2 separate regions of the Homo sapiens genome follow, and region 2 is linked to region 1. The links come from fine-mapping of genetic effects on plasma protein levels. A gene starts in region 1. The other region holds a variant in brackets. All regions are shown on one strand. Distances are between the middles of the regions.

The links. A credible set is the group of variants that fine-mapping cannot tell apart. PIP is the posterior inclusion probability: the model's chance that the variant is causal. The UK Biobank Pharma Proteomics Project read protein levels with antibody pairs (Olink). The fine-mapping took linkage between variants from a reference panel, not from the people measured, so its PIPs are less certain.
Region 2: its variant is the best candidate, but not a certain one, in a credible set for the plasma level of the CNTN2 protein (UK Biobank, PIP 0.90).

Annotation. Positions count from the first base shown.
Region 1 is chr1:205,041,584-205,044,482 of GRCh38, reverse strand. CNTN2 (contactin 2) reads right to left here and starts at 1,271. Exons shown (of 23, transcript NM_005076.5): 1 at 1,089-1,271. RefSeq lists cis regulatory regions at 1,413, 1,505 and enhancers at 1,341-1,485, 1,433-1,577.
Region 2 is chr1:204,988,767-204,991,665 of GRCh38, reverse strand. NFASC (neurofascin) reads right to left here. Exons shown (of 30, transcript NM_001005388.3): 23 at 2,860-2,899; 24 at 360-374. Among named protein-coding and RNA genes, the nearest start is that of CNTN2, 53 kb to the left of the region's middle. RefSeq lists an enhancer at 1,942-2,031. The variant G/A (reference allele first, on the strand shown) is at 1,236.

The DNA of each region.
Region 1 (2,899 bases):
TGGCCTCACTGGACCCCCCCCCCCAGGACACAGGCTCAACCCCCAGGGGTCTGGGGCTAGAGGGTGCCCGTCTCCATCCCCAAGTAGCAGCAGGATTCTCCCCTTCCATAGGCACTGCCTTCTCCATGCCCCGCTGCTTCCCAGACCTGAGAGACCCTCTTGGAGAAGGTGACAGGATTCAGCTCTGGACACTCACTGGCTGGGGCTGCCCCCCACCTCCAGCCCATTATGTAAGCCCCACGGTGCTGGGCAGAAGGATTGCCCTCTCTTTCCAGAACTCCCCAGCTCTGCCCCTTCCCTTCCCCATACCATTCTGGCCCCAGCCCCTTTCCTTACTGGAAAGCCAAACTTTGTGCAAATTCTTCCCTCCCACCAGTGAGGATGGGGGGGAGGGATTTGAGGAGAAGCTAAGGTTGGGAGGGGGAAGGGAAGGAAAGGAATTTCAGCCCGGTAGCCCCAGCCTCTCGCCCTTTGGGATGTGACTGGCCTCAGGACTCTCCTCCCCGAGTCCCAGTTCCTGGACAGGCCCTTGCCCAAACTTGTGCTCCACTCTCCCCTCTCTCTTCCACAGCCCCCCTCTCCATCCAGCTGAAGCAAGACTTTGCAAAGAGGTCACCCTGCAGAGGTAGACCCTGGGTGACCTCAAAACTGGGGACTCCGGCTCAATTCCATGCAGGGACTTCTGGGGCAGGCCAGGGCCCAGGGCCTGGCTGTATGGACTGGTCCTGTCCTGGACCGGGTGCCCAGGGCCGGCCCAGGAGAAACTGCCCTCTCCACAGGCAGCTGCCACTGCCCGCTGGCCAACTGGAATTCCTGGACACACTCCTGGGGTCCAGCTTTTCGGCCAGGCTCGGCCTGAGAGAGCCCTGCGGGATGCCGCCCACGTAGACAGGGCGGAGGGGAGCCCCAGCACCCACCCTGGGGCTGAGGGGAGAAGTCAGAACGGCCCCAGCCTGCCAGTGTTCCTGTCCCTGTTCCCTCCCAAGTTACAAGGGGGATATTTACAGGAACTGAGCCGGGAGCCCCGGCCCATAACAGCACGCAGGGAAGTCCCTGGGTTGGAGGAGACAAAAGCGGTTGGCACCTACCTGGGGCGAGAGAAGGGTGTTGGCTGGGGCAGGTGGATGCTGCCCGAGTCGGTGAGCCGGGGCCGGCCGGGCCGCCAGCCCCTGTCTGGGCCGCTGTCCTTTGGGCCCTGGCGGCCTCAGCCGCTCGCTGTCCGGGTGCGGCGGCGGCCGCGGCGGCGGTGGCGGGTGAGGGCGCGTGTGTGTGAGCGCGCCCGGAGCCACTGCAGCATCTCTGCATCAAGATGTGCTCCTCCCTCTCCCAGGCTCCGCTCACTGGCTGGCTCTGGTCCTCAGCCAACGCTCGGGGGCCCTGGAGATGGCTTCCTTCTGCCCCCCTCCCACCCCACTTCCGTCCCCACCCTCCTGGCTTTACCTCATTTGCTGTCATTTAAGGACCAGGGAGCGAGCCCAGCGCGCGTCTTCCATAATGCATGGGCCGCTCATGGACAGGCCGCGGGGCGCTGTCTGGCCCGCCTGCCCTCCCGATCCTGCCCAGCCCCACTTCTAGTCCCCCTGCCCAGGGCTGAAGGGGCAGGAGAGGGGCGGGGTGAAGAGGGAAAAGAAAGTGGCTCTTACTCCTCAAACCCTGGAGACCCATGGAGCCAAAACTCCTGGTTTCCCCAGAAATCCCCTATCCGAGGAAGAGATCCAAATCAGAAATCCCAGCTTGCTGTGTGGGGCAAGTGGCAGGGAGGGGCTGTCTCTGTTGCCCGGTCCACCCCATGTTCCTCTTTATTGTTTCCCTTGTTCAAAAGTAGTTTGAGCTTTTTGTCAAAATATCTAAATATTAGAGGACATTTAAAAATACATAGTGAAAGTCCCTCAACCACTACTCTTAATAAATCTAAGTACATGCCCCCAGGTTTATTATTTTCGTGTATACAATTACATGGGTTAGTAGGGTTATTTCACACAAATGTGATTACATAAAACAGTAGGATTGGCCAAAGACTTTTAACTGTGTAACTGATCTTGGACACTTTTACGCATCAGTACGTTTGGATCCAATCCCATTTTTAAGCAACCAGCAGTGTGATGTCATGAAAAGCTCCCTGGATTAGGGGTCTGGGTGTCTGAAGCATACTCTGGGCTCCACAACCGACTGGCTGTGTGTGCTTGGCTAGGTGCCCTGCCCTCTCTGAGCCTCGCTGGTACCTGAAGGGATTAAAGATGGACACAGTCCTGCCAGCTCTGAGATTCTAAGTGCTCACCCTTGTCAGCGATGCCTTTCTCCTGCCCTGCTCCGGTCACGTGGGGGAGTGCCCAGGAAGGCTGTGGCCCGGAGGCGGAGGGACCAGCCATCTGCGGCACCAGTCGGCCCTGTCAGGCTGTCACTGTTGTCTCACCCCCCTCTGATCTGCCTGCTGTCCAGCTTGCACAGGCAAGACCGGTGAGCAGTCCAGATGCTGCAACAGCTGGCAGGGCCAGGCCAGCCTCCCAGTTTTAAATGGCTATACCTGTCAAGCCTGGATCATGGCTCCATGTCTCCCTGAGTGGAGGAGGTCCTGGGGACCTGGGCCAGAATGAGAGGGTCTGGAAAAGGAGAAGGAGTCGGGGAGGTTCTGCTGCTCAGCCTCCAAGGCTGGAATGTCTGCCCAGGTCCCACATGCGCTCCCCTCCTTTCCTTCTGAGCCCCTCCAAAGGGCTTGCCCAACTTGAGAGATAGTCTTCTTTGTTCCTGATGGGGAGGACTTGGATTTTGCTAATGATGTTTCTTAAATAATGTTGAATGCTGTTATATAGACAGACACATCAACCCCTTGCCAGGATATCTTTCCCTTCCTTCCCCTGCCCACACTGTCCTTGCCTATCTGTATGTCTGAGGGCTGGCA
Region 2 (2,899 bases), 53 kb after region 1:
GAGCTGTCAAGCCCAGGCAAGGACTCAGGTGGTTAACGGGAAGTAATCTACTCAGTGTCAGAATGAAACTGCAGCTCCAGAGAGCAGGTCAGGGCCGGTGTGTGTGTGACCCCTGCTGAGCCATTCTCCTACTCAGCAGGGGGCAAATAGTTTGGGAAGGGGGGAAAGTGGGCTTGCTCTCCTCTGGTCCCATCCTCCACACACATCCCTCTTGACAGTCTGGCTTCCCAACCACTGAAAGGGTGAGTCTGGAGCATGCTTTCAGCCTGAGCCTCTCCCTCCTTGTCCGCCCTGGCTGGGCTGGGCTCCGCCTGCGCTGCCCCATGCCATGCCCATTACCTCCGCGGCTGGTACGGTACCTGCGGTTGGAGTAGCTTCAGAACACAGCGCCCAAGATGGCCAGACAGAGGGAGAAAGGATGGAAAAGGGAAGAGAAAACAGAGCACAAGTGAGACCACAGGACAAGGAAAGCAGGGAAGGTTCCAGCCCAAACCTTATGCAGACGGCGTGGCCAGGTGCTGGCTGCTGGCCTGAGGATGCCAACTGGCATTCAGGGTTCACGGTCAACTCCACCTGAGTCAGGCATGTTCCTACAGAAACCTTTCCACCTGGGCCTTGGAGACCTTTCTAACACACTGTTTCTACCTCGATTCAAGGACTGGACATCTAAAAGGTGGCTGCAGGGACAGTCCACTCAGAGCATTATGTTCCCAGCTCTGTCCTCAACAGCATGTCCTGCTCTGGCTAGGTTGGCATGACCTTTGAGCAGGCTGGGTGACGCTCCATGATGCCAGGAATTGAGGGGATAAGGAGTAGGTGGTGTGGGAGGACACCAACTCCAGTCAAAAGGATGGTTCCTGTCTTTGGGGGAAGATGCTGAATAGTGGGATGGATAGGAGAGAGGGAGCATGTTCAGCTGCACCCACTCCACACCATCGCAACCTTGGAAGGCGGGAACTTTGAAGGATGGAGCCTGGAGCCCCTCTCCTGGTATTCCGTCACTCCAATTCTTCCCCTCCAGTTGGACTTTATGAAGTTAGAAACCCAAGTTTGGACTGAGAGCCCTTTCTTTTTTCTTTCTTTTTCTTTTTTTTTTTTTTTTGGACTGAGAGCCCTAAGTGAAATTCTTGAATTTTCTGCAAAGCCCTAAGTTAAGAAAAAAGCCTCTATTTGTCCTTTTGTCCCCTGGGGCTGCAGAACATTCTCTGTGGTGGTTACTGGGGCTGGACAATAGG[G/A]CTTTGTTATCTGATGTTCTGTATTGGGGTGCACATAGGGAGGGAAGAAGGGGCTCTCTTTATCTATCTATTTGCAGAATTGAGTAATCAAGAAAGTGCATCATGGCCTGGCCTGGCCTGGCCTTTGGTGACAGACACACATCAGCCACTAACCTAAGTCCCCCTGCCCTAATAAACTTCCCGAGTGCCCAGGGGCTTGGGAGAGTGCAGAAGAGCACAGCAGGAGGGAGAGCTGGTTGTGTGACTCACTCCTGGTTTCTGAGACCAGAGAGGGATGCAGAGCGGGCTGTCAGCCTTTCTCTGCTTCTGCCTGGCCCCTCTTCTCCTGCCTCAGCGCTGGTCTACTGGCTAGAGTGGTGGGCTGGGGAAGGATGTGGGCAGCTTGTGAAGCTGCCTGGGATCCCGGGGTGACGCAGCGGGCCTGGTAGCCCCAGAGAAGGCAGCACTGATGCTCTCCTGGAATGCGGGTAGGGGTGGTATTCAGAAGACCCCGTCTGGGCCTGGGCCAGGCCACGGGACCTGACCCTTCTGTGGAAAGCACCAGACACGATGACTTGTCAGCTTCCAGAGTGCCCACTCACATCACCTCTTCTCTGGAGTCTTCCCGTGAAGACTGAATCCCCTTCTCTGCCCAGCCACTGCGCCCCCTCATTTAGACATGCAATTAGATATTCTTATAGATGACTCCCCCTCTAGATGGTGTGAGCTTCTTGTTACCTTTGTATATCCCTTGTGTGTGGCAGTGTCTGGCACCTCACATTGTGGGTACTCAAGAAATGGCTGTTGAATAGACCATTGTATCTCTGGAGACACACGGGGGTCCCCAGCCTTTCCCAGAGGGTGTGCCAGTATTGAGGCTTTTGCAGCCTTGCCTCCTCGAGAGGTCCCAGACTGCACATTCCCCTGATGCCAGTGCGTGTGCGGGTGAGCCTGGAGCCCCCTCTAGTGGAGTCCTCAGGCAGGTGCAGCTCTGGTGGGGCTGAAATGCTGCCAGATGACGCCTGGACCCAGGTGATGAACTCATTTGCTCTTTGTGAAGCTGGCTTGGCAAATGGCTGTTTCCTAACTCCTCCTCCTCTCTGCAGCCTGACAACGCATCCAATTCAGGCTGCAAGGAAGGACCACATTCTCTGCTCTACTCATGATGCCAGTAACAGCGTCATCCTGACGGTTTCCCCTACCTCCTTGAACCCATGTGCCTTCGAAGAAAGAAGGTTGTCCCCAGAGCCCTCATGGGAGCACTCACAATCATATTCCTGCCTCCCTCAAGAGGTGAACACTCACTGTTCTTTGGAGTTCATTATGATTTCTCTCATTTCTCAACTCATGCTCTCTTCCTTATTCCTCTACAAGAAGGAAAGATGATAGATGTCAAGTGACTGAGCAAGTCAGGGCAAGTGGGGACCCAGGTGTGACCACAGTGGTCCAAGGAGAGCTGAGCTCCAGATACAATGCCAGCACCTACCTCTCACACATAAGATGGGTTCTCACCTTCCGAGGGCTTGAGGACTTGCAAGTCTCATTTCCTCTCCATCCCAGGCAGCCAGCTACAGATCTCAGTGTTTCTCTAGGCCTCGGAATTAGCTGGGACCTTTTACCCCAGGGGCTGCTGCCATGCACCTACCTTCATTCGGGGGTGCTGGTGACTCCTCTGTGACGGCTTC